3 separate regions of the Homo sapiens genome follow, and regions 1 and 2 are each linked to region 3. The links come from fine-mapping of genetic effects on gene expression. A gene starts in region 3. Each other region holds a variant in brackets. All regions are shown on one strand. Distances are from middle to middle. Region 1 overlaps HELZ (helicase with zinc finger). Region 2 overlaps HELZ (helicase with zinc finger). Region 3 holds the start of HELZ (helicase with zinc finger).

Region 1 (10,367 bases), 150 kb after region 3:
TAGCTCTTACTTGGTGATTAGCTTTGATGGCATAATTATAAATAGAGCCCTTATTAATTAAGTTGCTGACCTTTCCCCAGTTATCTATTTATATACACACAGGTGAAATGGCTTGATAACGTCATATATTAGAGGTATATCTTATAAGACAGTGGTAAGCAAATTAGGAGTTTTTACTCAAACTAAAACTATCTTTAACAGTAAAAATTTATACATGAGTTTTGTAGTTTAGTTTTTTCCTTCTTTCTTAGATTTCCTGTATTAAATGGCTTTTGAAATGTTAGCATTACATTTTAATATTTGGAAAGAAATATTAGCAGAATTTGAAAATCGTGATTATATGTGTAGTACCATAATCTCACAGTAAAACATGAAGCATATTTATAAACACACAATCATATATGGAGTTGATACTGAACTTCACAGAATCTCTTTAAGAATCTCTCTGGCAGGGTAAATGAGCCTTTAAACAACATTAATGAAATTATTTAAGACCTGAGGACTCTAAAATTAAACCTGAGCATCAGTCATTGGTAGGGTTGCCATCCGAAAATAAAGGAACAATCTGATTGGCTGAAGATGTATGTAGAAGGAATACTCACTTCCCGAAACAGAACTGGGCGAAAGCAATAGGAAACAAAGTCAAGAAATAAGAAAAGAAAATAAAAGATAAGAATAGAAACAAGAATAAATAAGAAATGAGAACAGAAAGGAAGGAAAGTATGTTTAAACAGCCTAGGGGCCCACAAAGCTACAGTGTTGATAGAGATGTAAAGGGATTTCTCTGTCAGAAATATTTTTCTTTTGTAGGCTACAGATGTTTTTCTAAAATTTTGGTTTGGGGGCCTTTACTGTATAGGAAGTACCCTCTGGCAGAGGAAAAAAGGACATTTTAAACTTGTTGCCCAGAATCCATTTCATTGCAGTCAGTTAGCATGTCCTATAGTTTTCTGGATTTAAATCACATAAATAGGCTTGGATTTGTCATCACACTTGGAATATTTTAGCGAGTCTATCAAATTGTTGATGGTTGTTAAAGATGATAGATGTTGTTTGGACATTTTTATTTTTACTTTTTGAGATGGAGTCTCGCTCTGTCACCCAGGCCGGAGTGCAGTGGTGCAGTCTCGGCTCACTGCAACCTCCGCCTGCCAGGTTCAAGCAATTCTCCTGTGTCAGCCTCCCAAGTAGCTGGGATTACAGGCACCCACCACCATGCCCAGCTAATTTTTCTTTTTTTTTTTTTTTTAGTAGAGACGGGATTTCACCACGTTGGCCAGGCTGGTCTCAAACTCCTGACCTGAGGTGATCCGCCCACCTTGGCTTCCCAAAGGGCTGGGATTACAGGCGTGAGCCACCACGCCTGGCTTTGTTTGGACATTTTTAATTAAAAGTTAAAATATATTCTTATTGAAAAAGACTTTGATTTATCAAAGACTTTAAATCTTGTAACTTTGGAACTAGTCAGGCCTTAAAGATCATTTAACTCCCCCCTTTTAAAAGGAAACCGAGGCACAAAGATATTAAAGGACTTGTAACTTAAGCAGTTATTAACTCAAGGGAGTGGAGACTCCTGACAGTCCCATGCTGTTTCTGAAGCATCACACTGCTCTTCAGATCTCTATTCCATGAGTAAGGTTTATTCTTAGAAAATGAGAAATGATTGCAATTACACAGAACTAGATGTGGGGGAAAAGCAAAATTATGTTCTTGTGAAGAATTCAATCTTCAGTTGTGTAAAATTTGCCTTTTATTTTTTCTGGGTGGTGGGGAGAAAGGGAGCTAGTTCATTTTAGAATTCTTGATTTCTTGAATTGTATCCAGTTGTAGCTGCTAAATGTTTGACTGCTCAAATGATTAATTTAGAGATCTCAAATATCAGAAATGTACTTAATTTCTCCACATTCTTTAAGAATAAAACACATTCTCCAGCATTACATTTTTTCCAAAAGCTGGAAAATTTATTTAGTTTTAATAATTATGAATCTTCAGAGAAAATTCAAATAGTTGTGGGTCAAAGAGTAAACTTTTACTGCAAACTATTTTATTTCCTATCCACCCCAACATTTGCTCATTGTAAGAGCTGTTGTGCTCTATAATTGTTAATTCACTGTTTCATATTCAAGAACAGTAAACAAGAGTCAGATAGATTCAAGGTAGCTCCAAATGTCACAGCAGTGAACCTGACGTTTTTCTCTGAGATGTAATATTGTATTCGTTCTGGTATCCCTTCTATGACCTTGTATATGGATGTATAGGAAAATAATATTGCTTGGTAGGAAAATACTATTTGTAAATTATAAGTGCCCTTGCCTCTGAGATGCTTCAAATGGCATTTTTTAAAATTTAGACCCAAATTGATTTTGATGCACTGTGTTGCAAAGTCACATTTATTTCAGTATATGGGCATGCCTTGTTTTATTGTACTTTGCTTTATTGCATTTCACAGATATTATAGTTTTTACAAATTGAAGGTTTATGGTAACCCCATGTTGAGCAAGTCTATAAGCGCCATTTTTCTGACAGCACGTGCTCACTTTGTGCCTCTGTATCACATTTTGACAATTCTCACAGTATTTTAAACTTTTTCATTATTTCTTTATCTGTTGTGATCAATAATCTTTGATGTTGCTATTGTGATTGTTTTTGAGCAATCAGTGTTATGTGTATTCTGACTGCTCCATTGACTTGCTGTTCCCCCATCACTTAGTCTCCTTGGGTCTCCCTATTCCCTGAGACACAACAGTATTGAAATCAGGCCAGTTAACAATGCTACCATGGCCTCTATTTAAGTAAAAGGACAAGTTGCATGCCTCTCACTTTAAATCAAAAACTAGAAATGGTTAAGCTTAGTGAAAATGGCATGTCAAAAGCTAAGACTGGCCAAAAACTAGGCCTCTTATAACAGTTAGCCAAGCTGGGAATGCAAAGGAAAAGTTCTTGAAGGAAATTAAAAGTGCTACTTCAGTGAATATACAGATGATAAGAATGTAATGAAACAGCCTTATGGCTGATGTGGAGAAAGTTTGAGTGATGTGGAGAAAGTTTGAGTGATCTGGTTAGAAGATCAAACCAGCCACAACATTCCCTTAAGCCAAAGCGTAATCCAGAGCAAGACCCTCACTCTCTTCAATTCTGTGAAGGCTGGAGATAGATGAAGAAGCTGGAGAAGAAAAGTTGGAAGCTAGCAGAGGTTGGTTCATGAGGTTTAAGGAAAGAAGCCATCCCCATAACATAAAAGTGCAAGGTGAAACAGCAAGTGCTAATATAGAAGCTGCAGCAAGTTACCCAGAAGATCTAGCTAAGATCATTGATGAAGATGGCTACACCAAACTACAGATTTTCTGTGTAGACAAAACAGCCTCTTATTGGAAGAAGATGCTGTCTAGGACTTTCTCAGGTAGAGAGGAAGAAGTCAATACCTGGCTTCAAAGCTTCGAGGAACAGGCTGACTGTCTTGTTAGGAACTAATGCAGCTGGTGAACTTTAAGTTGAAACCAGTGCTTGTTTACCATTCCAAAAATCCTAAGGCTTTGAAGAATGATGCTGAATCCATGCTGCCTGTGCTCTATAAATGGAACAATAAAGCCTGGATGACAGCATATCCATTTACAGCATGGTTTAACCCATGTTTTAAACCCACTATTGAGACCTACTGCTTTGCTGGTGGGCGGGGGAGGGGGGGTGGGATTTTTTAAAAAGATTCCTTTCAAAATATTACTGCTCATTGACAATGCAGTTGGTCATCCAAGAACTCTGATGGAGCTGTGCAAGGACATGAATGTTGTTTTCATGCCTGCTAACACATCCATTCTGCAGCCCATGGATCAATGAGTCATTCTGACTTTCAAGTCTTATTTAAGAAATACATTTTGTAAGGCTATAGCTGCCACAGACAGTGATTCCTCTGATGGATCTGGACAAAGTAAATTAAAAACCTTCTGGAAAGGATTCACCATTCTAGATGCCATTAATGATTCTCTGGCTAAAAAATTTAAGAACAAAAAATATATACTGTATTGCTAAAAAACGCTTTCTTGTTGTGATTGTTGGGAAGAGGTCAAAATATCAATATGAACGGGAGTTTGGAAGAAGTTGATTCCATCACCATGGATGCCTTTGAGGGGTTCAAGAAGTCAGTGGAGGAAGTAACTTGCAGATGTGGTGGAAATAGCAAGAGAACTAGAATTAGAAGTGGAGCCTGATATGACTAACTTGCTGTAATCTTATGATTGAACTTGGGTAGATGAGGAATTTCTTCCCTTTTGTTTTGAAGAGAAGGGTCTTGCTTC[G/A]TCACCCAGGTTGGAGTGCAGTGGTGCAATCATGACTCACTGCAGCCTTGACCTCCTGGACCCTGGCAATCCTCCCACCTCAGCCTCCTCAGTATCTGGGGCTACAGGCACATACCACCATGCCTGGCTAATTTTTTTGTTTTGTTTTGTTTTTGGTGTTTGTTTGTTTGTATCTCACTATGTTACCCAGGCTGGACTTGAACTCCTGGCCTCAAGTGATCCTCCCACCTTGGCCTCCCAAAGTTTTGGGATTACAGGCGTGAACCACTGAGCCCAGTGAGAAATTTCTTGTTATGGGTGAACAAAGAAAGTGTTTTTTTGTGATGGAATCTACTCCTGGGAAGATGCTGTGAACATTGTTGAAATGACAACAAAGGAGTTCAAAGGATTTAGAATATTCCATAAATTTAGTTGATAAAATACTGGAAGGGCTTAAGAAGATTGACTCCCATTTTGAAAGAAGTTCTGTGAGTAAAATACCATCAAACAACTTTGTGTGCTATAAGGAAATCTTTTGTGAAAAGAAGAGTCAACTGATGCGGCAAACTTTATTATTGTCTTATTTTAAGAAATTGCCACAGCCACCTCAGCCTTCAGCAACCACCACCCTGGTCAGTGAGCATTTTTTAGCAATACAGTATGTATTTTTTGTGATTAAGTTTTTTAGCCAGAGAATCACAAGCAATACATTATTTTAAAATTAAGCCATATACATTTTAAAAAATGTCTTAAAGAGTGTCTCACTATGTTGCACAGGCTGGAATGCAGTGGCTATTCATGGGTGTGATCATAACTCACTTAAGCCTCAAACTCATGGGCTCAAATGATCCTCCCTCTTCAGCCTCCCAAGTAGCTGGGCCTACAGGCATGTGACACCATGCTTGCCTTTATACATTGTGTTTTTTTAAACATACAATGCTATTGCACACTTAATAGATTATAGTATAGTATAAATATAATTTTTATATGCACTGGAAAACCAAAAAATTTACGTGACTCACATTATTGCAGTATTAGCTGTATTGCAGTAGTTTGGAACCAAACCTGCAATATCTCCAAGGTGTGTCTGTATCTCTCTGTCTCTCTCACCAAACCTGCAATATCTCCAAGGTATGTCTGTATCTCTCTCTCTCTCTCTCTCACCAAACCTGCAATATCTCCAAGGTATGCCTGTATCTCTCTCTCTCTCTCTCTCTTTTTTTTTTTTCAAGACCAGGTCTCCCTCTGTCACCCAGGCGCAAGGTGCAGTATATGATCTCAGCTCACTGCAACCTCTGCCTTCCAGGCTCAAGCGATCATCCCACCTCAGCCCCCTAAGTAGCTGGGACTACAGATGCATGCCACCACACCCAGCTAAATTTTGTATTTTTTGGTGGAGATGGGGTTTTCCTGTGTCACCCAGCTGGTCTTGAACTCTTGAACTTAAGCACTCTGCCCACCTCGGCCTCCAAAAGTGCTGGGACTACATGCTGTTTCCAGCTTTTATCTTAGGTTCAGTGGAGTATGCGTGCAGGTTTGTTATATGGGTAAATTACATGTTGCGGGAGTTTGGTCTGTATCTTTTAAGGGAAACAACAAAACCTAGAAATAAATCTACTATAGTTTTGGGAACTAAGATAAATTTTTGCTTCTGTCATTATGATTGAGTTTTATAAGGCTAAAATGACATTAAAATTACTTTAGAAATTGTATGAAAATAATGCAATTTATTTGTTTAGAGTTTTAAAAATAATATAAATAGTGAAGGATGTCATAGTTATCTAGGCAAGAGGTGATTGTGGCTTGGACTGTGGGGTAGCAGTGGAAATGGTAAGAAATAAATTCAGGATCTACTTTGCAGGTAGAACCTAGAGGAATTCTTGATGGATAGGTTATGATTAGGAATGAAATAAGATTTAAAATTGAGTTCCTCAGTCCTAGTAGGCTCATTTTGACTGACCAGGAGCTCCCATGGCAAGGCGCTGCCTTATGGAACAGTACAGACACAGAACATTCCCATCGTCACAGGAAATAGTTTTTGGACAGCATTGCTTTAGAGAAGGACTCATATCCTTCAACTGTGTGAAATTGTCTATTATTATTAATCTTTTTTGATAATTTTCTAGCATTATTTTTCTCCATGTCTCACTTTCTGAAACTTCTTTTGATAAGATGTTGGGCCTCCTAGATTCTCCAAATCTTTATTTCCTGTCATACTTTGATACCTTTGTACTTTTTCTTACTTTCAGGAAGATTTCCTTGATTTTATCTGCAAGAACTATTGCATTTAATATTTGAGCCCTCAGGTTTTAAACTCACAAGAGTTCTTTATTCTGAGCTTTTTCCTTTTTCATAACATCTTGTTTTCTGCAGTGCCTTTTCTGAGAACACCAGTTAGAGGGTTTGTTGTTGTTTTGTTTTTGATTTTTAATAAGAACTAAAACAATGTTCTAAAATATTTTTAAAACATCACTATTGTTTCTTTCCGGGCCTCCCTTTTTTCAACTTGTTCATCTGGGACTATCTTTTATGCTGGAGACCTTCCTTAAAAGTCTGGTAATCCTTGATTATCTTTTTTTTTATGAGACAGAGTTTTGCTCTGTCACCCAGGTGGGAGTGCAGTGGCACAATCTTGGCTCACTGCAACTTCCCCCCCCCGCCGGTTTCAAGCAGTTCTCTTGCCTCAGCCTCTCAAGTAGCTGGGATTACAGTCACCCGCCACCACTCCCGGCTAATTCTTATATTTTTAGTAGAGATGGGGTTTCACCATGTTGGCCAGCCGGTCTCAAACTCCTGACCTCAGGTGATCCACCCACCTCGGCCTCCCAAAGTGCTGGGATTACAGGCGTGAACCACTGCGCCTGGCCGCTTGATTATCTTTCACTAAAAAGCAACTTGGGAGTTTTGTGTATATCACAGGATGTATTGCCTGGCAGGCCTTTCACTGGGGACTTTTTAGTGCTTGAATCCATGTGGAGCCCTTCGTTTTTCCCGGATTTTTGCTTGTCTGTCTCCTTATCTTTTTGTCTGTATTGTAGGTACCTGGCTGGCTGTGTCCCACTGTTGTTGCGGGGAGGAGTATGAGTCCAGCTGTTTCCTGTATAGACTTTCATTTAACCCCCCTAATTTTATCCCTTCATCTTCCTTTCATTTTATATTAGTTGGCAAGCCTCTGTGGAATTCTGCTAGGTGAATCGTTTCCCTTCTTGGGGGGTAGCTATAATTTCATTCTTCTTCCACAGACACCATTCCTCCATCCAGTCTCCATGTATTCTGGAAATGTGTCCTCTATTGATGACGAGGCTCATGGTCTTGATTGTTGTATATCTATAATATTCATTTATTATTATTTTAGTGGAGTCTTGGGCCAGTTGCCACCATTAACTGGGAATCATGCTTTTAAAAAATGATTTTGTAATTTATCAAGTGCTTTTCAATAGATTACATCACATGAACCCATAGATATGAACCCACAGATATTACTGTTGTAAACTACAGTTTATTCATCACACGTTATCTGGCTTGTTAATAAATTGATTATTTTTAGTCTTATAGTGATAGTCCTCTCCTTGCTCCATCTAGTTTTTTCTCTCTAGGGAACTGTACTGATCCACCAAACTGTAGCGTATTTGCTTTAAGCAGAAAATGATAATTTGAGGGGGAGCTAAATTGAAATAAGTTAGTAGACCCTAAGTGTTCTATAATCAAGGATTTCTTCCTCAAATCTTGGGGAAATTAAATAGATTAGTTTTAAGTAAATGAAGAAAAAAAATGCAGCTTATTAAATCTGATATTATAAGAGTGTCCATGACATGGAAAGATACCTATGATATTTCAGTGAAAAATTACCAGGCAGTATGTAATGTCTCATTTTAAATTATATGTTTAAAGATGTACATAATATCCAGTTTTCCCACTTTAGCTATGTTAAGTTGATCAGTATGTTTCAGTGATCAGATGATGTCATTCTGATCTATTGACGTTAAAATTTCTAGCAACCTTTCAGATTTTAGCAGCTGTTGATGGTTGTTGCTTAGATCTATTGTTTCATTAGAATGGCAAAATGATTATTTAAAACTTCTTTGAATTTCTTTTGTATTTATTTTTCTTTTATAAAGGAGAACTTTTCCTCATTGAATATTTAATTACTACCTAAAATATAGTCTATGTAGAAAGGGAAGGATAAATGTTTAATCCTTGCCCTTTATTAGTCAATTTTCAGAGTAATGAATTGAGGCCTTAGCAGGCCTCAGGATGACCATTGAGGCTTTTTTCCCCTTCTTTTTTCACTTTGAATATTATTATTTGATATCATTATGTATTTGAATTTTTACTTTATTGTAGTCCTTATACATTTTCACACCTTGTCCCCTATCTTTGACCAATGGAAGGTTCTTCATTAGAAATATTAGAAATGTTTTACATTGAGTGAAAATGGAAATATAGCCTGTCCTAATTTGTGTAATGCAGCTCAAGCCATGTCAGAGGGAAATTTATAGCTTATATTAGAATTTAAATTTATAGCTTGTATTAGAATTTAATAAAAGCTTTATTAGAAAAGAAGTAAGATCTCAGATCAATAATCAAAACTTATACCCCAAGAAATTAGAAAAGGAAGAGCAAAATAAATTCAAATCAAGCAGAGGGAAGGGAATTTCAAAGATGAGAACAGAATTCAATACAATTCAAAACAGAAAAGCAATAAAGGAAAATCAATAAAACCCAGTTAGTTGTTCGGAAAGATTAGTAAAATTGATAAACCTTTAGCAAGATTGACAAAGACAAAAAGAGGATACAAACTACCTATATTAGGAAGGAGACTGGGTCACTACAGACCCAGTAGACATTGAAAGGATGGTAATAAGGGAGCACTACAAACAACTCTGTGCACATACATTCAGCAACATAGATAAAATGAACCACTTCCTTAAAACCTCACCAAAGATGAAATAGATGGCATATGGACAGTCTTATAACTGTTAAAGAAATTGAATTTGTAATTAAAACCTTCCAAAAAAGACATCTCTAGGCCCAAATGGTTTTAGCATGGAATTCCTCCAAAAATGTGAAGAAGAAAACCACCAACTTACACAATCTTTTCCAGAGAATAGAACACTTCTCAATTTATTGTATATGGCCAGCATTACTCTGATACCAAAACTAGATAAAGGCAATACAAACAGAGAAAATCACAGATCCACTTCCATGAATATCAATGTAAGCATCCTCAGCAAGACATTAGCCATTTGAATTTAGCAATATATGAAAAGAATATACTATGATCATGGGGGGCTTATCTCTAGAATGCAAGGCTGGTGTGGTATTTGAAAATAAATTAATGTAATACACCATTCTAACAATCTAAAGAGAAAAATCACACAATCATATCAATAGACATAGAAACCACATGCATTTGACAAAATGCATGGTCCACTCAGGATGAAACTCTTGGTAAACTAGAAATGGAAAGGAACTTCTTCACCCTGTTAAAGGGCATCTATAACAATTCTGCAGCTACCATCATACTTAATGGTGAGAGATTTAGTGCTTCTAAGATTAGGAATAAGGCAAGACATTTGTTCTCAACATTCCTCTTCAACACTGTGCTGGAAGTCTTAGCCAGTGCAATAAGGCAAGAAAATAAATGGCATTAGGGATTGGGAGGGAAGAAATGAAGCTGTCTCCATTCACAGATGACATGGTTGTCAGTATAGAAAAAGCCCAAGGAATCTCCCAATTCCTTGGGAGATTCCTGTAACTAATGTGAATTTAGCAAGGTCACAAGATACAAGGTCAACACACAAAAATCAATCAATCTCTCTGTCTCTGTCTCTCTCTCTGTCTCTCTGTCTCTCTCTCTCTCTCTCTCTCTCTCTCTCTCTATATATATATATATATATATAAAATCTCCAATAGATCTAATTTTAAAAGCATTAAAAAATTTTCCAGTTTCGGTTTTGCTTTTCTGACATAAAAAATTAATCATATTCATAACATAATTTGAAATTGAATTTCATATTTTATCTACATGTTTATCTCTGTCAATAGCTGTAGATAGGTTATACAATACTTCCCCGGAGCCTGCTGTGCATGTCA
Region 2 (10,367 bases), 42 kb after region 3:
TGTCGCCCAGACTGGAGTGCAGTGGAGTGATCTCAGCTCACTGCAACTTCAGCCTCCTGGGTACAAGCAGTCAGCCTCCCAAGAAGCTAGTATTATGGGTATGCGCCGCCATGCCTGGCTAATTTTTGTATTTTTAGTAGAGATGGGGTTTTGCCATGTTGGCCAGGCTGGTCTCGAACTCCTGGACTCAGGTGATCCACCTGCCTCAGGCTCCCAAAGTGCTGGGATTATAGGCTCGGCCTTTATTTTCATTTTAAATTCAGTTTCTGAATTGTTAGTTCTGAGAGCATGATTATATCTAAGCAGTGAGTGATTTTATATCATTACTGACTAAAGGATTTAGTTTGTATGGTAATGAAAAAAATTTTTAGGAAAGTTTTTGGAAAAAATACCTTCATTAGGCTAAGCTCTTTAATAAAACACTTCAGAAGTAACTAAGGATTTGATAAAAGAAATAACCTAGGCTGGGTGTAGTGGCTCACACCTGTAATCCCAGCTCTTGGGGAGACTGAGGTGAGTGGATCACCTGAGGTCAGGAGTTCGAGACCAGCCTAGCCAACATGGTGAAGACCTGTCTCTACTAAAAATGCAAAAATCAGCCAGGTGTGGTAGCACGTGCATGTAATACCAGCTACTGGTGAGGCTGAGGCAGGAGAGTCGCTTGAACTGAGGAGGCGGTGGTTGCAGTGAGCCTAATCATGCCACTGCACTCCAGCCTGGGCAACAAAGCGAGACTCCATCTCAAAAAAAAAAAAAAAAAAAAAAAAAAAGGCCGGGCGTGGTGGCTCATGCCTGTAATCCCAGCACTTTGGGAGGCAGAGGCGGGCGGATCACTTGAGGTCAGGAGTTCGAGACCAACCTGACCAACATGGAGAACCGCCGTCTCTACTAAAAATACAAAATTAACCATGGGTGGTGGCGCATGCCTGTAATCCCAGCTACTTGGGAGGCTGAGGTAGGATAGTCGCTTGAACCTGGGAGGCAGAGGTTGCAGTCCGCTGATATCATACCACTGCACTCCAGCCTGGGCAACAAGAGCGAAACTCTGTCTCAAAAAAAACCCAAAAAAACAAAAAACAAAAAAACCCGGCATAGTGGCTCACGCCTGTAATCCCAGCTCTTTGGGAGGCTGAGGCGGGTGGATCACCTGAGGTCGGGAGTTCAAGACCAGCCTGACCAACATGGAGAAAGCCCGTCTCTACTAAAAATACAAAATTAGCCGAGTATGGTGGCGCATGCCTGTAATCCCAGCTACTCGGGAGGCTGGAGGCAGGAGAATTGCCTGAACCTGGGCGGCAGAGGTTGTGGTGAGCCAAGATCGCGCCATTCCACTCCAGCCTGGGCAACAAGAGTGAAACTCCGTCTTAAAAAAAAAAAAAAAAAGTCCTAATATGGTCATATTACTGAAAACAGTAGAGAATATGTACTCAACATTTACTATAAGCTTGTTTTAAGATTACTTTCCTTATATTAGGTAATTCTTTACAAGCAAAGGGAATTGCATTTTAATTGTTAATCCTTGCCTTGTGATAGCCAGAGGCTATGGAACCCCAGCAAAGATGTATTTTGCTAAAACAGTTGAATGAATATTACTCCTTTAAGTCTACTCAGTTTCTAATCCAAAACATTCTAAGTAAGACATATTTCAAGTGTTAGAAAATATCACAAAAAAGATACACAGCGAGCTGACAGAAGTCCTCCTTTGTAACTCCTAGTGAACAGAAAGGAACAATTCAGTTTGAGAACAGTTGTGTGCGCACAGTACACTCTCACACATAGTTGATGGGAAGAGAATTTATCTGCAAGGAGCTGTAACTTTTTTATAATTGTTCAAGATTGTATTATTAATGTCATGTCTTTTGGCAAGTTCAGTTTTTATAGCCGAGACAAGTTTAATAATACAGTAGGCCATACTTTTTTTCCCCCAAGCTTTTTCAAGGTAATAAGGAACTAGATTGGCAGCATTGCAATTTAATTTTGTTATACGATACAGTAGCAGGAGAGGTTTTTATCTATAGTTATTGACTATTTCTATGCCATAGTTTTTTATATGGGATCCTCCCATACATAAATTGAATTTCATTTAAGGGGAACAGGAAGAAAGTATGTCAGTACTGCTTCTTGTCTGAAAAAGAGATGGAAAAAAGGGAAACATAAATTTGACAAATATTAAGATATTCATACAGCAATGTAGTGGAAGAAACTTGCAAAATGAAATTCAGCAAATACCTCATACAAAACCAAAGATCTATGAAACCTGTTTGTAAAATGTTATGTGATTTAATACTCTTTAAGTATGACATCATCATATGAAGTTGAAATACTCTTAGACTTTTTCATTCCTGCAAACATTTTTCAGCTCTTGACAACTAGTTTCTTAATATCCCAGTTACTAAAAATGAACTAAGATATTTCCTCAGCAGTGCTCAGTACTGCTGTAAAATTTTTAGAAGGGGAAGGTAATATGTAGGGAATTCTTACTTATGCAGGAGACTGCTAGTTACTTTTCTAATTAGCATAATTAATCTTTACCACAACCTTATGAAGTAGCTACTGTCACCTCCGTTTGATAGGGGAGGAAATAGGCTTAGCGATGTAACTAATCCATACCTTAGTAGGAGTGTCATTTTTCTTCAGAGCAATTTTTTTTTTTTTTTGAGACAGTTTCGCTCTTGTCCCCCAGGCTGGAGTGCAGTGGTACGATCTTGGCTCACTGCAACCTTTGTCTCCTGGGTTCAAGCGGTTCTCCTGCCTCAGCCTCCCGAGTAGCTGGGATTACAGGTGCCTGCCACCATGCCCGCTAATTTTTGTATTTTTAGTAGAGACGGGGTTTCACCATGTTGGCCAGGCTTGTCTTGAACTCCTGACCTCAGGTGATCTGCCCGCCTCGGCCTCCCAAAATGCTGGGATTACAGGCATGAGCCACCATGCCTGGCGAGAGCATTTTACTTGTATTGTTTCATTTAATCTTTAATGGCAAATTTATACGTGTTTCTGTTTTACAGATGGCCACACTGAGGGTCAGAGAGATAAGTAACTTGCCCAAGGTCAGATTTGAAGAGTTTTAGGAATAGTAAGATCTGAGGGAGATGAATACTTACCTTGGAACTTTATAAGACACTCAAGACATTCTTAATGATACCTTATTGGAGTTTTTCACTTGATAACTCCTTATTGGAGTTTCACTAGATAACAGAATTATCTAGTGACTGTTGAATAGATGAGTGATCTGTAATATGGATGGATTGAAACAATAGATTCGTCCAAACTAAAAATAATTGAATAAAACCCTGTCAAATACAGAGAGACTGCAACTTTCAATTTAGTAAATTCAATAAAAGGTATATGTAAAGATTTTTATTATGGCATTATTTTTAATAGTTAATAATTGGAATTATTATCTTATAAGGGAAGGGTTAAATAAGTTGATGTATCTACTTGGTAGAACATTATATAGCCAATAATAAGATAAATATAAGCACTCTGATCACATGGAAAATACTGAATGTGCTGAGGGCAAAAAAGAATACAAACTGTCATGTTGGCATCAGTTACAATCATTGTAAAAATGTTGTGAACATTGATCAGAATTGGAGGAGAAAATGAGTAAGTGAAAACTTCGTTGAGTAGTGAGATTATGATGAACTCTTATGTAGAATTTTATTAGTTTTATAATGTTTGTGTAATAATAGGAGAAGATATATTCATAACAAAAATATGAACAGATCCAGTGGACTTTATATATATGGTATGTTATACTAAAAAGAAACATTTCCTTGGAAATAATTTTAAAAATAATTTCTAAAATATTTTAGCAAATTATTGCAAAGGAAGCTAAAGTATGTACAAACTAATAATAGAACCTTGGACTTAGCAATGCAGAGGATATAGATTGCTCTACTAATTGAACCATTAGCAGTTGCTGTGAGAAATCATCTCAAATGACATGGCATAAAAATGAGTATATTCTGTTTTGTTAGAAACATGATCCTCATGATTGTATTAGATTAAATCTGCAAACCCTTGCAAACAATTTGGGTAGCATTTTCTGTGGCCACTGGGCAATTGGATTCTTAGTAAATCTTGTTGGATTTGATAAAGACTAATTCTTAATTGCTTAGGAATATCTAGGTGAGATTTGTAGTTTCTGTTCTTACTCATTTTAATGGCACCCAGTCTTATGTCACTGTAAAAAACATGAGAACTTTATTCAGCTAAGTCTGCAATTTAAAAGCCCTCATTTACCCAGAATTCGTAGGTTGAACAGTATTTTTCCCTCGAGAGCTTAAGGATTGATTCTTCCTGTGATTTTGATCTCAACTGGTTGTAAGTTCGGTATGTTTATTGCCGCATGTTTTTTCTTGTTCTTATATGCCTGTTTTGGACAGAACAGAAACACCACTGCTTCCCTCTAGAGTATTTGAAGTTACTCTTTTAGCATATAAAAAGCCACGCTTGTGATAGTGTGTTAATACTATAATCAAGAAAAATGTGCATTAAATGTCATATGGTTAATGATGGCTGTTCTTTCATGGCAGTGCTGGGAGAAGGACTGGCCAAGGGAGAAGATGCCTTTCGGGCAGTGCTTTGCTGCATGCAGCTGAAAGGGAAGCTCCAACCTGTATCCACCATTCTTGCCAAGTCACTCACAGGAGAGTCCCTGGTATGTTGATAAGCTCTAATTTTGTATGCCTGAAAACAAATTTTTATTTGATTCCTTAGGTATATTGTGGGGAAAAAAAAGTGTATCTTTTTTTCTTTTAGTTCTTCCTCTATTAGAAAGCAAAATTCATGAGTATCCTGAGATATAGTACCCATTTTTCTTTTCTTTCTTTTCTTTTTTTGTTTTTTTCTTTTTTTTGAGACAAGGTGTCAGTCTGTTGTCTAGGCTGAGTAAAGTGGTGTGATCACTGCACACTGCAGCTTCAACCTCCTGGGCTCAAGCGATCCTCCTGCCTCAGCCTCCTGAGTAGCTGGGACTACAGATGCGCACTACCATCCCTGCTAATTTTTGACTTTTTGTAGAGACGAGGTCTCATTATGTTGCCCAGGCTGGTCTTGAACTCCTGGGCTCAAAAAATCCTCCCTCCTTGGCCTCCCAAAGTGCTGGGATTATAGGTGTGAGCCCCTGCTCTTTTTTCGAGACCAAAATGATATTTAATTATTAATTCTTGTAGTTTGTGATTATATATAAGAATTGTAGATACTTTAAAATAATTTAGGTTAACTAAGTGATTTTCTTTGAAGATATGATTTAACAGAGCCTGAGTTTTAAAATGCTGATGTGGACATATGATCTCATAGGGTTCTTAAATTCAACAATTTATTTCATAAAATGTTTAAATCTATCTAAACTAATAAGTGCTTCTGTTTCTGTT[T/C]GTATGTGTGTAAGTAATATCCATAACCACTCTGATGGAACTAGCTAACTCTATTCAGACTTTACAATCAATTTTGTAAATATAGCATTTGATTTTTTTAAGTTACGGAGTCTTGCTGAATTGCTGAGGCTGGAGTGCAGTGGCTATTCACAGGGGGTTATCATAGTGCGCTACAGCTTTGAACTCTTGGGCTCAAGTGATCCTGTTTCAACCTCCTCAGTAGCTAGGGCAATAGGCATGTGCCACTGTGCTCAGAAGTATATTTAATTTTTTGGCTTTTTTTGGTTGAGATAATTGAAAGGCTACTTTTTGAAACTTTGGATTTGATAATCTATAGAAAGTGGAAGAAAAGAGCTATAACCTTTTTTTTTTTAAACCAGTTCGTAACTTAAGAAATTTGTTGATAATTTTCAAGAATCATAATGAAACACAGTGAAAGCAAGAAAGTATATGTATACTTTGCTCTGCTGTGTGAATTCCCTGTATCTTTCCTATTCTTCTGAATTGATATAGATGATAAAATTATGGGGCAGATTTGTGCTTTTACTCCAAATATTAAATAATTATATTTGGTTAAAAAAAAAGAAGTTAGGGAAGTACTTGGTATATTGTTGAGTGTAATGTATTGGCCCATCTCGGGATAGTTATTTTCTAAGGAATTATTGTGCAGTGAATTGTTTAATTATGTTTAAGTTTAGCAGTGTCTTTTGATTTCACCAGATTCATAAATGAACTTAAAAGCTAAAATGTATTAGCATAGAAAAATTATATAGCTATTTAGTTCTAAGTAGATAATAAAGGAATATATCTCTTCTTTGTTATTAAGATTATCATTAAAGGGCTTTTCTGTATAAGTTAAGTATATTACAGTTTTACCTGTTGTTTTTAAATTTAAAACGAGTAAAGAGTAATTTGCTTTTAAATCTCAAATGAAATTTAGATTTCAGAAGAGTGATATTTTCCTTTTATTAAAGAGCCATTTTTAAAGTGGTGTGATCAGCTTATATGAATCTTCCTGAATCATGGCTGGGTTCACCATTTTGTACATACAAACTTATTAATCTTAGGAAAAGGGTTAAAAACAGCAATAGGTTGTTTTCCTTTTCATTTATGCTGTCTTGTTCTGTGGTGGTACCTGTTGTTAATATTTTCTTGAGTTAATTTTAATTAATGTAAGGTGAATACAGTGGTTTTACTTACCAGAAAAGGCATTCTGTATAGTTTTTCCTGTTAACCTTTTAAATTTTCCTCATAGATGTGTTGCTTTATTGTCATCGTTAATGGTAGTAGTGATGAGGGATGAGGATAACATTGTTTTTTACAAATAAACTCAGAAACAACAGAGGAATTGAGCTAAGTTGCCATAGTAAAGAATTAATATACTAATTGGTTCTTCTCTTTTTTATTCACCCTTTCAGAATGGGATGGTAACAAAGGATTTGACAAGACTAAAAACACTTCTCTCAGAAACAGAGGTAAGGCCATTTCAGTGGATCCGTTTGGAAGAGTTTGACTCAATCTGTCTAGTAAGCATTATGTATTAAAATTTGGAAAACCATTGTGGCATCAGCCAGAAGGCGAGGCTGTGAAGGTGGGGCAGTGGGACTGCCAGCCTTCCCTCGTAACCCCCATAACCCACAGTCCCATCGTGGGAATGCTGCTTCTCCACATGTCTCCTCTGTGTGCCAGGGCTTATCTTCTGTCCCTAGTGGACAGAACTGGTATCTTATTAGCTGTCTCTGGACAACAAATGGGAAGATGATTGGGAAATTTTAGTTTTTAACTACTTCTGGCTACTAGAAAATGAAATGCTATCATTAAAAATGAGATATCCTCAAGCCTTATTTATTTATTATTTGTTTATTTGAGACAGGGTCTCGCTCTGTTACCCAGGTTGGAGTGCAGTGGTGTGATCACAGCTCACTGCAACCTCGACCTCCCTTGGCTCAGGTGATCCTCCCACCTCAGCCTCCTGAGTAGCTGGAACTACAGGCACACTCCACCGTCTGGCTAATTTTTTTATTTTTAATTTTTGGTAGAGATGGAGTTTTGCCATGTTGCCCAGGCTGGTCTCCTGGGCTCAAGTGATCCGTCTGCCTCTGCCTCCCAAAGTGCTGGGATTACAGGCATGAGCTACCACACCAGGCCTTCTTTTTGTCTTTTTTAAAGCACCTGATGGAAGTCTGTGATTTAAGGACTGTCTTTAAGGAATGTGTTTAGGAGATGGAAATAATGTGTATGAGGATAAATAGTGAACAAAAAAGTACTCCAGTGAAGGACTTGGAGGACACATGGAAGGTCAGGGACAACAGTGGCATGTAAAAGGCCCTGAGGTTTGTAAGTCTCAAATTTTTCTTCTTCATATAGGCATATAAAAGTATTTTTATTTTTAGATGTCCTATTTAAAAAATAGCCATTTTGTCAGCTTTTGTCATAAAAGCCCATGTACAGTGATTAATTGGCTTATTTATTCAAAAATTGCCTATGTGCTAGGTACTATGCTTGTTGCTGGGGATACAGCACTGAACATGGTTCTTGTCCTCTTGGAGGTTAAAGTTTTAGGAAGGAGATAGACAACAAGTAAATAAATTGAACAACTGTAAGTGTAATTCACAGAGAGGTAGGTGATATGAGGGAAAAGAATGAACTCTTCTGCTGGAAAAATCACTGGATTTGGTGGCCAAGGACTGAGACAGTTAAACCAAGAGCTGAGAGTTGAGAAGGTGCTTGTCTCACGGAGAGTGAGATGGAGGGCGCTTCAGACAGACAGAGGGGATGTGCAGAGACCCTGGTGTCAACTTTGAACTCCTGTGGGTTCCTTTCCATTCCAAATGTAGTAATGTATCCCAGTTCATACCAAAAAACAGCAAAGAAGGTGGTCACCATGGATTATACAAGCTGGAAAAAATAACTGTTTTGCTACTATTAGGCTTTTTCTTCTAAATTTCATTTTCTTTGTCTTATGTTGCCTGATTGTGAATCAACCGAGAATCAGTAAGCTCTCACTAACTTCAAAGCCATGTGTATATATAGGTATTAGGTTGGTACAAAAGTAATTGGGGTTTTTGCCTTTGAAAGTAATGGCAAAACAGTCCCGGTGCGGTGCTTCACGCCTATAATCCCAGCACTTTGGGAGGCCAAGGCGGGCAGATCACCTGAGGTCGGGAGTTTGAGACCAGCCTGACCAATATGTTGAAACCCTGTGTCTACTAAAAATACAAAAATTAGTCAGGCATGGTGGCAGGAGCCTGTAATCCCAGCTACTCAGGAGGCTGAGACAGGAGAATGGCTTGAACCCAGGAGGCGGAAGTTGCAGTGAGCTGAGATTGCACCACTGTATTCCAGCCTGGGCGACAGAGTGAGACTCTGTCTCAAAAAAAAAAAAAAAAAAAAGTAATGGCAAAATCGCAATTACTTTTGCACCAACCTAATAGTGTATATGTAGCCGTTTTAATTTCTAAGAAGTAACAGAAGGCAGTTGTAGATGTTTTAGACTTTTAAAATGACAGCATAAAATGACCTTTCATTTTGTTAAGATTTTTGGCTTTGTTCTTCTTTTATTGCCTTAATTGAATTACCAACTTTACATCTGATAATCACATGCAATTTATTTTATTTTTAATGTTTATAATCCTGTTGCATGTAAGGCCACATATATCACTTGACTCTTATTTTGTGACTATACTTTTGGAAGAAGTGACTTAAGTTTTTGTAATTTTTTTCTATCTAACTAGAGTAGTAGTCTTTTTGGTTAGTGAATTGATATTATTAAAAGATAACCGTTTAGGAAAAGCTAACAAACAGTGCTACCCTTATTTATTATTGCACATGACACATTTAAAAATGGCAACAATTTGTTATTTAAAAATTGGGCTAAGCTGGTATTTAACTTGTAAATGCTAATGGATGAGAATAAAGACCTGGAACTCAAGACTGATTTATGAAAACAAAAACAAGTATTCTTTAGTAAATATTCTTTAGTAACATTTAAAATATCTGATTAATAGATTTGATTCTGAATTTATAGTTCTAGCAGTGTAATCTTTGGCCATTTTTCCTGAAGGTGTCGGTAAAGACTAATGATGATAAACTGTTGCCTTTTTGTTTTGGAGTATAAGTGCATAAAAAGAGTGTTTAAAAAACAAACACAACACTTTGGAACCTAAAAGCCAGGACTGCTAAATACTTAGCCAGGCTGAGTGCCTTACTTTACCAGTTCTCTGCTGAGCATGTGCTGCTCCCCAGATCCCCAGGAGACCTAGAGCTCAGTGTCAGCACAGGCCCGTGCGGGTCGTCACTGATTCTTACAGGTGCTGACTGCTGAAATGCACTGTGTGGTGTTCTCTCCAACATTTATAAGTGTTTTAGGCTTTATTTTATGACCAAAACATTTTAATAATGTTTATCAAACATTTTTATTCCCATTATTTTTCTTGCACATTTGATAAATTTATTTTGATAGGTTTTAAAAAGGAGATACTTTAAAATTTTCCTACTTGCAGTTAATTTTTAGCCTATCTATTTATATATGTTATGTAAATAGAATCATTTGAAGGGCTAGTTTGTGACAGTGGCACATAGACCTTGCTTGAAGAATTTAAAGAGATCTTTTAATGGCTTTTTTTTAATTTTTTTTGCAGCGTAGAATGCTAATAATATGAATAATTACTCCTGATTTGTTAATCTGTGTATTCTTATATTCAGCCCTTCGTTTTACAAAAAGAATGGCTTGCTTTTTAAAAACTCCTTAGTAAGTGCTTTACTGATAATCAGAAGGCATTTTCCTGTGGAAACAGTATTACAGAGTTTAGTTCAAGCCCAACCTAAAAAGTACAATTTAATCAACCACATATAAATTATAGTGATAGTATTGTTTCAGTTATGACCCGTTAGCATTCTGACGTTCTTTCTATGGTACAAGATATTCCAGATTTCATCTTGGGATACTGTTTACTCCTTCTGATTCAGTTTAACATTTACTGAGCACCT
Region 3 (10,367 bases):
AGGATGGTCTCGATCTCTTGACCTTGTGATCCGCTCGCCTCAGCCTCCCTAAGTGTTGGGATTACAGGCGTGAGCCACCCTGCCTGGCCTTTTGTGGTCTTTTTAATCAGTATTTGCCTTCTTTTGAATTTATTATTGTCTTCCCTCTATGTTAGCTTGGAAATTATTCATTCTTTTACAGGTCTAGTGATTAACTTAGATGTTACAACATGCATCTTTGCCTTTGTCAATGTCTAGTCTTAACTGGTACTTTAGTCGTATTGCTGGATAATGTAAATACTTTGGACCTTTTTTTTGTTTGTTTTTTGCTTTTTTGAGACGGAGTCTCAGTCTGTCACCTAGGCTGGAGTGCAGTGACGGGATCTCTGCTCACTGCAAGCTCCGCCTCCCAGGTTAACGCCATTCTCCTGCCTTAGCCTCCCAAGTAGCTGCGAGTATAGGCGCCCGCCACCATACCCAGCTGATATTTTGTATTTTTAGTAGAGATGGGGTTTCACTGTGTTAGCCAGGATGGTCTTGATCTCCTGACCTTGTGATCCGTCCTCCTCAGCCTCCCAAAGTGCTGGGATTACAGGCATGAGCCACCGCGCCCGGCCTACTTTGGACCATTTTAACTCCACTAACTGCAACCACCGCCCTTCTCAGATTTATACTCACTGTTATCAAATATTTCAATTCTAGATGTACTTTACATTCCTCAAGGCATTATAATTTTTTTTTTTTTGAGACAGTCTCACTCTGTCACCCAGACTGGAGTGCAGTGGCGCTATCTCAGCTCACTGCAACCTCCGCCCCTCAGGTTCAAGCGATTCTTGATTCTCCTGCCTCAGCCTCCCGAGTAGCTGGGATCAGATGACAGGCATGAGCCACCATGCACAGCTAAATTTTGTATTTTTTGTAGAGATAGGGTTTGCCATGTTGGCCAGGATGGTCCCGAACTCCTGGTCTCAAGTGATCGAACTCCTGGCCTCGGCCTCTCAAAGTGCTGAGATTACAGGCGTGAGCCACCGTGGGCAGTCCATTATAATTATTTCTCTTTTTTTTTTTGAGATGAAGTCTCACTCTTGTCACCCAGGCTAGAGTGCAGTGGCACGATCTCAACTCACTGCAACCTCTGCCTCCCAGGTTCTAGCGTTTCTCCTGCCCTGGCCTCTGGAGTAGCTGGGATTACAGGCGCCCACCACCACGCCCAGCTAATTTTTGTACTAAGGCAAATGACCAGGGAGTGTAGTTGTAGAAGAGAAACCCAAGGACTGAGACTTGGGACTCTCCAAGCAGAAAATGAAGGCACTGCGGCCGGGCACAGTGGCTCACACCTGTAATCCCAGCACTTTGAGAAGCCGAGGCGGGTGGGTCACTTCAGGCTAGGAGTTCGAGACCAGCCTAGTTAACATGGTGAAACCCTGTCTCTACTAAAAATACAAAAATTACCTGGGCGTGGTGGTGTGTGCCTGTGGTGCCAGCATTCGGGAGGCTGAGGCAGGAGAATCGCTTGAACCCAGGAGGTGGAGGTTGCAGTGAGCCAAGATCGCGCCACTGCACTCCGGCCTGGGTGACAGAGAAAGACACTGTTTCAAAAAAAAAAAAAAAAAAGAAAAGAAAAGAAGCCACGGCCAGTGGGAGCAGAGGAGAAAGAAAAAATGTGGGAAGGAAGAGGGATGTGATGTCGGGGGGATCAGTTAGTTAGGGCTGTGTGTGTTCATGAGATCAGAATCAGAATTGAGCTAAATCAGTGGTGGCCAAGGGACCTGTTTTCCCTCAACACTGTTCCTTTCTGCCTGCCTCTAGCTGTGTGTGGTCAGTGGTCTGAAGAGATGCGAGGCAGGGCCCTCAGCATCTCACTTCACACTTTAGCACTCCTTTTCATCAACACGCCCATCCCTGAGAGAAGTTTGGTCATGTACTCGACTAATACTTGGTGAGCGTCTATGTATGTGCCAGGCCCTGGTCTAGTCACTGAGGCAAATAAGCCAGACAGAGCCTGTGCCCAGAGGGAGCATATGATCAAATGGGGGCGGGGCAGATAAGAAACAACTAACAACAGGCAAACAAGAGAACTTTTTTTTTGAGATGGAATTCTCACTCTGTCACCCAGGCTGGAGGGCAGTGGCACGATCTTGGCTCACTGCAACCTTGGCCCCCCAGGTTCAAGCAATTCTCCTGCCTCAGCCTCCCGAGTAGCTGGGATTACAGGCGCGCTGTAATTTTTGTACCTTTAGTAGAGACAGGGTTTCACCATCTTGGCCAGGCTGGTCTTGAACTCCTGACCTTGTGATCCACCCACCTTGGCCTCCCAAAGTGCTGGGATTACAGGCATGAGCCACAGCGTCCGACCTAAACAAGAGAACTTCTAACACAGGTCAAGTGTTCAGAGTGACTTGGTCTGGGTAGGGGGATCACAAAAGTCCTCTTTGAGGGGACCTAAATATGATGAAAAGATGATGGGTCGGGCGTGGTGGCTCACGCCTGTAATCCCAGCACTTTGGGAGGCCAAGGCGCATGGATCACGAGGTCAGTAGTTCAAGATCACCCTGGCCAAGATGGTGAAACCCTGTCTCTACTAAAAATACAAAAATGAGCCGGGCGCGGTGGCGGACGCCTGTAATCCCAGCTACTCAGGAGGTTGAGGCAGAGAACAGCTTGAACCTAGAAGGCGGAGGTTGCAGTGAATTGAGATCGCGCTACTGCACTCTAGCCTGGTCGACAGAACAAGACTCTGTCAAAGAAAAGATAATCAGAAGATCTGGGGGAATAGGGTTCTCACTGGAAGGAAGCTTGGGGCGCTGCAGGGAAAGAGAGAAGGCCAGCCTGGACCACTGCTGGTGAGGGAAGGTGGGACCACCTCACACAGGAGCTTGTAGGCCAGGGTTGGGAATCTGGGTTTTATTCCAAGGTTTCAGCAGAGAAGTCTCGATCTGATTTACATTCATAAAATATCACAGGGTTGGTCAGGTGGAGGATGCATTGTAGGTATCCAGGAGGGGCAGGGAGAAGAGTCGGCAGGCCGTCCCAGCTCAGGCAACAGGCGGTGTATTTGACAAGGTTGGGCTTGGATGCACACACTGGAGGCAGTGAATGGGTTGGGCAGTCACACAAACTGAACACTTATTTGGGTCAATGCCTATACAAGGCAAAGAAAGGCTGCTTATCAAAGAAACGTGTTTGGGAGACACAGTCCTTGCCCTCAACTTATTTCCTGTTTACTTATATTAGGTGGGTGCAAAAGTCACTGCGGCTTTTGTCATTACTTTTGCATAAACTCAGACCACATACCTAAAGGTGCCATGCAAACAAAACCACCATTAAGCCAGTGCATACCAGTGGCTAAATAAGTGCAAAAGAGGAATTGGAAAAGAAGCACCTGGGGTACCCTGGAAAGAGACATTGGAGCCTTCTTCAGACGGGCCAAGCATTCCCTTTTCCAGCAGGAGGGGCGCTGCCTCCCCCCAGCCTAGCCCATGCCCTTGGTGGCTACCTTGCTGGGCCGTCTAAGAACCTGGCTCCAGGCTCCAGTTTCTCCACTTATTCCGAGGTGAGAAGCAGGTGACTCAGGGGAGGTTGCTCCCCAGCACGCTGCGTTCTTGGCTGGGAATGACTCACTACCTCGTTCCCTCCTTCACGAGTGACCCGGGGCCAATCCCTTAATGTGTCTACACCTTCTCATCAGACCGGGACAATTGCCTGGTGGAGTTTTTGGCTCCCCAGGGGCAGGGCTCCTGTCTGCCACCGTTCACGTTCCTAGTGAGGCTGTTGATAGGGTCTGGAGGAGCGTAAAATCCTCGGGTAGATCCAAGGCCCCAGGCCCTCCCCGTGCACCGAAAGAGGGTTTTAATGCCAGTGCTTCTGCGGTCTTCTAAAGGTAGAGCCGTTCAACAGCATTTTGTACCGAATACAATTCGCAAGCATTCCTGTCTTGGAGAATTTTCTTTTGGGTATCTCCTTGTTGTAAAAACTTGCTTGGAAAAAAAAAAAAGCAACTGGAGCAGGCCTCCAAAGACAGCAAAGCAGGGACCAGAGGCTCTGCGGAGAGCGCGGGAGGAGGCTGACCAAGGGGCCTCCGTTGCTGGGGGGACCTGGGCGGCTGGACGCCGGGGTCAGTACGCTGCTCGCCCCGCGCAGCCGAAAGCGGGCGTGGTGTCGCGGGGAGAGGATGCCCGGCAGCAGTGTGGCCGGCGGGCTGGGGGTACTCGCCCGGGTCAGAGACCTCAGCCCGCGCCAAGGCGCCCCACACTTTCCAGCGCAGCGGGTCGCAGCCCGGAGACGCCGGGCGTCCCCACCTCCAGCCTCCCGAGCTGCAGCGGCGCCCGCGGTTCTCCCCCGACCCGCCAGGTGGACCCGGACTGGCGCACCCTGCTTTCCGCCCGGGACCCTCCCCCGAGCCCTGGCTGCCTCCGCGCCCCGCCCCGCCCGGAGCCCGCAGCCGGCGCCCCGGATTACCTGCCCCGGAGTCACAGTCCGCAGCCCGGACGCTCCCAGGGTGGCTCCGCGGAGCCTGGAGCCACATTCCTAGGGGAGGGGTCCCCACCTAGAGGGTCGCGGATCACGTTACCCGCCCGGAGGAGGAGACCGCGGGACACAGAGTAAACAAGGGGTAAAAAGTTGCATTTGGCTCAATTTTTTTTTTTAAATCGTGCTTCGACGCTGGTGGACTCGGGGACACGGCGTCCTCCCAGTTCCCGGAGCCCAACGGCCCCGGGGCGGTTTCCCAGGGCAGAGGCACCTCTCCGGGCGGCGGGTGCGGAGCTGGTCTGCGCGGCCTCTGAAGGCGACCCCGGCCGCTCGCGGGCTTCCTGGAAGCGCGGCCGCAGGAGCAGAAACGCTCACATCCACGCGCACAAATAAATCCGCGAGCAGCTCCGCGCCGCGCCGCGGGCGGCAAGGAAACCTCGGGTTGATTCAATGCAGACGCGGGGCGTCTGCCCGGGCAGGAACGCGGCGAGGCGAGAGGACCGGGCGTGGGGGCAGGGAGGCCGGGGCAGGAGAAAGGGAGAAAACCCCAAAGCCACGTTTTAAAAATGCGGGTGAATTTTCAATGCCGTCAGCCCGGGGGAGGGGAAGGGGCCAGCTGCGGGCGCCGGGGTCGGCAGTCCACCCGGGGCAACTTTCCGGGCGGGAGGCGCGGCCGGAGGGGGCGGCGCCGGCGGCGGGAGGCGGGAGTCGGGGGCCGGGGGGAGTCACTTTAAAGGCTCTTTCTTACCCATAATGCTTTGTGGGGACGTTGACAAGTGGATCCAAGATGGCGTAGAAAGTAATGACAGGTAAGTCCTGACTTCCCCCTTCTCTGCTCCTGGGGCCGCTCCGCGAGCTCCCGGAGCTCTCCGGGGAGGGGACCCGACTCCCCTCCGGTGTCCCGGACCCCGGGCGCGGCGGCCCCGGGGCAGGCTGGGGGCCTGGGCGGCCCGCGGCTGGGCCTGGGAAGCGCGGCTCTTCGAGGCGAGGCCCGGACGCTGGGGCTGTTTACAGCTTCTTCCCCTACTTAGTCCCCTTCCCCTCCGCTGGGGCCCGCAGCGTCCTGGGCCCTGGCAGGAGAGGGGGCCTTGCACGCCTGGCCCGGGAGCCTGCGGGAGGTTTCTCCGGCCCAGAGCACTCTGGGAGGGGGACTCGAGCCTCCCGGCACGTTCCCCTCCTCCGGGTCGCGGCTGGGGGTGGGGAGCGTGCGGGCCTCCCACGCCCCGCTCGATGCCCCCCCTCAGGCCTCGGACTTCCACCGGGTGGGGTGGGGGCTGGAGCGGGGGCGTGGGGAAAAGTGGGTCAGGCGTGCGCCCCCTCCCTCCCCCGCGGAGGGCTCTCGGCCCGAGATTCACTTTCTTCCCCCCTTTCCCCGCCCCCTCCTCGGAAATGCTCTTTGGCCCACAAGCACATCAACAAAAATAAAGATAGGCTCTCTTTTCCTGGAGATTCCTTGAGAGTACTCCAGTACCCTTTTCAAGGGCTCACAGACTGCAGTCTTACCTAGGGAACTTCGATTCCTCTCCCCTAAATTATTGGAGCCTTCTGCACCCTCGCCTTTGCTGAGAAATCTTCAGACAGGGCTGGAAGCCAGGGTCCTCTGATTGTTCTTGGATCGGGATCCTCAGGTTTTGTTTGCAGTTCAAAAATTGTCATTCCTTCTCCCTCACAACTTAACACTTCTCAGGCAAATCATTAATATAATAAAAAGTGTAACTTCAGAGACAGTGGATTCCTGGAGCGGGGGAAGGAGGGAGGAGTTGTCTGTCTTGCCTAGTTTGTTCTTAATTTTGCTCTCTCTTAAACTCATATTAATGAAATTTCCTCTCCTTCATTTCTTTATGTTTTTGAAAGTAAGGTCAGTCTGTGTTGAAAAAGATGATTTTATTATGTTTTTGAGTTTTAAGAGCATTGTATAATCTATTCTTTTACCTTACTGAAAGGAAATGTTTTAAGGTCAAAAACCAGACTCATTTGCAAAGCTGCACACTGTACCATTTTTGTAACTTTTTCCATTTTAAATGTAGATGCCCTTTCACTTCAGGCTGATAAAATGTTTGCTACTGATAATGTCTGTTACTGGTGTTGTATGGAAACATCTTTTCTATTTGCCTCAGGATTTGGATGAAGTAATGGATCACTAATGAACTACAGTGCTGGTGAGATGTGTAAGGTGAGACTGCAGTTAAAAATGATTTCCTTTTTTTCCTTCTTTATTTTAATCAACTGGTAAGAGTAAGGCTGAAACTGAGTAATTTGATGGGGCCATCTTTGTTTTCCAAATGTATCACTCAGTCAGTGGGTCTATGGGCAGGGCTAGATTTAGAAAGGAAAAATATGTTGAATGTACCAATCTTTTCAGTTGCTCCAACATACTCAAACATAGTGGTACTTAACTAAGAGCCAAATGTTACTTGCAGCTATTCTTGATCAGTATCTTCACCAGGGATAATTATAGTTTGCCTATTCAAATTTTCTTGCGTAACTTTACTTGGATGTCTTAATTTTATTTGTGTTTTGGTGTCTATCACCTACTGTACGTTTAGTCCCGGTGATTATGTATATGGATTTTGTGTGTACCTGGTTTGTGGGACTCGTAAAGTATACCCTTTCCGTTAGAAAGAATTAGGCAGGTCAATCACTCCTGCTTTTATTTTCTGAAAAATGGAGTAGTACTTTTCTCTTTAATAATTATTTTGAAATAAAGATGATAGTGTTGAGATCTGTTTAGCTTATTAGGAAATAGACTAGTTTGTCATTATGTCCTGATCACACACGGTGTGTGAATTTATTCAAAGTGCTTTATTTAATCTAATTTGTAATGCTTTGGATTTAAAGGATATTATTGATACAGTGTTAGTGAATAGTTTTCTGTGCTATAGAGAGGAAGAGAAGTTTGCTACTTTTACATTTTTCACGAGTTTTCTCAACTTAAAATGTTTTACTAAGTTTTTTTTTAGAAAAATAATAAGTAATTGTGGTCGATTGGTTACTGTAGTTTTTTTTTTGTTGTTTCTCCACACATCTGGGCCTCTGGATTTTGAAATCCTCTCACAAATTTTTCGTGTCTATCACAACATCTGTTTAAGAAGAATAAGCTATCCTTTTTTTTTTTTCTAGATTGAGGCATGTAATTGACATTTTGCCTTAAAAAAATAAAAACTTAGGAAAGGAAGGTGGACATAAACCAAGATTCTTTTGTAAGTGCACATACTGCATTTTCTTGTGTTTGAAACTCAGCAGTGCTTATGTTTATTTCATATAATTTTTATTTTTGGCAGAGCAAATATGGATTTTTAAATTTATTTTTATTTTGCAGATGGAGGCATATTCCTGCCTTAGACCTCCCAATTTGAACTTTATATATGTGTGTATATATACATATATGTGTGTATATATACATATATGTGTGTATATATACATATATGTGTGTATATATACATATATGTGTGTATAGATATGTGTGTATATATGTATATATGTGTATATATGTGTGTATCTATGTATATAGATAGATAGATTTTTTTTCTTTTTTTTTTTTTTTGAGACAGAGTTTCACTCTTGTTGCCCAGGCTGGAGTGCAATGACGCGATCTCAGCTCACTGCAACCTCTACCTTCCAGGTTCAAGCAATTCTCCTGCCTCAGCTTCCCGAGTAGGGATTACAGGCTTACGCCACCACACCCGGCTAATTTTGTATTTTTAGTAGAGAGAGGGTTTCACCATGTTGGTCAGGCTGGTCTCGAGCTCCTGACCTCAGGTGATCTGCCCGCCTTGGCCTCCCAAAGTGCTGGGATTACAAGCGTGAGCCACCATGCCTGGCCTTATCTTTTTTCTTGAAGCCTACAGATAATTTTGTGGAAAGGAGCCAGTGGTCTGCTTTTTGACTGTGGAGATGTTTGTTTGTAGTCTAAAATGGAATACTTAGAAGTAGGTAATCTTGTGTGGCTAGTGTTGTTTGACCTGAATTGTGTCAAGACATTTTCCACAGTTCTCACACATGTAGACTCTGTGAAGTGTTAGTATTCATTTCAAAGCGAAGTTAGTGGTTGGCCACTGAACAACTTGTTACACAAAGTATTCTAAAATGGGAAATGCCATAGTATTGAAGGTTGTGGTGAGGTAGAAGTCTGTGTCTCTGAGCTGAATAAAGACAGAGCTTTTTTAGTCTGTCCTTTTGGCTGGGAAGCTAGGACACTATTTTTAGGTAAGGCTGTAGTTTTTGGGAGTAAGTACCTTTCTATTAGCTGGTAAACTTGATTATTGCATTTGTTAACAAGAAGTTTTATTTTCTAATGCCATAGATATTAAAATGCATTGTCTTAAAGTTGGTATATATTTATAGACTGTCCAGTTTTCACTGGAAGAGGAGTGATGCCAAAACAACAGGAAAAGTCATTTTTACTTGCAAAGGGCCTCGTGTAATTAAAAAATCTACAGCATATTCATGAAAGGCTAAGAATAGTGCAGAGGGACCTACAAGTAAGTAGCCCAGATCTTACAGATGCATGTGTTCTCTATTTAAGCAGTAGGCTTGGCATTAATATTGAATGTAGATTAGTCTATAATTGTCTGTCAGAGACCCTAAGATCCAAATACAGGCCCCATACAAGAAATAAGGACCTTTGCCTGTTGTTTCAAATGTATAGAAGATTTCGGGCCAGGTGTATCAACAACAGTTATCCAAGAGATGGGGAGGAACTACTTAAAAAATTATAAGCAAATTTTTAGGTTTAATTTTCATAAACTTAGGTGAATATACATGCAGATGTAATTGGATTTCTAAGTAATGTTTTGAAATGTTTTCTAGAAGAAAAGTGATACAAGTGGAGAGTATGCCATACTATCTTACCATTCATTTCAGTTGATGAGTGCAGTCAGGGTTACTTCTGTAGCATTGGCTAGAAGCAGCATATAACATGATGGTTTATTGCTTTGAGGGTGGCTGGGATAATAGTTTTCAGTAATCTTGAATCTGTTAGAAGTGAATATTCCTCTTTTTAAAAGACCACTGTAGATGTAACAGGAAGAATTTTATTTATATATACATGTAATAACTATTTTGGTCAACTTTTAATTATTCAAAAGAAATGGAAAGTTTTTCAACTAATACCAACAGTCATACCAACTTGTTTACTTTTGTGAATTGTACTGGGTCAGTTTCTCCAAGTAAGAGCAGGAAGTTGTTTGGTAAAGCAGAGTGTATACATATATCTTGTCTTTGAACAAAAAAGAACTTGATTCATCGTCAGGTTCTTCAAAGAATGCATGGCATCTTTGTTGACTGAACTATTCTGAAGTGTGAATGTTTGTGATTTTTGTCATTTCTGTGCTATATTTTAGGTGTTCTTGTCACATCTGAATTTGCCTTTTTGCTTCCTTCTGCAGAAATTATCTTTGTTGTGATGAAAATGTCCTATAATGCGAGCTTCCTGTCAGTAGGCAACGTGTTTAACTAATACAGTTTTAAAAAATTATTTACTTTTATGCAAAACTCCTGTATGCTTATGGTAAACAAATTTGAGCAGTACTTATGTAAAGTAAAAAAGGTTAAAAAAAAGAAAAGCCTCTGTTCTTCTTCTGTCTCTAGTCCTGCTCCCTTGAGCTGAATCTGGCAAACAGCTGGGTGTCATTTAGCTTTTGGAAGACCTCTCTATTCCTGAGATATTCTGGCAGTGTGGAAGTAGAGTGAGAAGTCAGAAAAGGCATGGTCATTGAACCAGAGTTTGGATGTTGTGCAGGGACTATTCTGTTCTTATTTTCTGTGATAAGTAATAATGATAAACTACCATCAGCTTAAGATAACTGTAATTTGAATTGTGAAACATGAAAACAGTTAGTTCTTTAGTCAGGTTGGTAAAGTTTTGATTTGTTGATCTTTTAAAAGAAATATGCATGAATTGAATTCATGTAATGTTA

The links. PIP is the estimated chance that this variant, and not a neighbour inherited with it, causes the effect. A credible set is the group of variants that fine-mapping cannot tell apart.
Region 1: its variant is the best candidate, but not a certain one, in a credible set for the expression of HELZ in whole blood (TOPMed, PIP 0.64).
Region 2: its variant is the best candidate, but not a certain one, in a credible set for the expression of HELZ in whole blood (INTERVAL, PIP 0.87).

Annotation. Positions count from the first base shown.
Region 1 is chr17:67,089,455-67,099,821 of GRCh38, reverse strand. All of the region lies in intron 31 of HELZ (helicase with zinc finger), which reads left to right. Among named protein-coding and RNA genes, the nearest start is that of CACNG1, 50 kb to the right of the region's middle. The variant G/A (reference allele first, on the strand shown) is at 4,293.
Region 2 is chr17:67,197,615-67,207,981 of GRCh38, reverse strand. It overlaps HELZ (helicase with zinc finger), which reads left to right. Exons shown (of 33, transcript NM_014877.4): 6 at 4,539-4,663; 7 at 6,797-6,853. Among named protein-coding and RNA genes, the nearest start is that of HELZ-AS1, 42 kb to the left of the region's middle. The variant T/C (reference allele first, on the strand shown) is at 5,379.
Region 3 is chr17:67,240,039-67,250,405 of GRCh38, reverse strand. HELZ (helicase with zinc finger) reads left to right here and starts at 5,210. Exons shown (of 33, transcript NM_014877.4): 1 at 5,210-5,258; 2 at 6,567-6,622. It overlaps HELZ-AS1 (HELZ antisense RNA 1), which reads right to left and starts at 5,630. Exons shown (of 4, transcript NR_136398.1): 1 at 5,198-5,630. RefSeq lists silencers at 4,193-4,392, 4,403-4,492, 5,043-5,532, 5,633-5,682 and enhancers at 4,012-4,998, 4,999-5,986.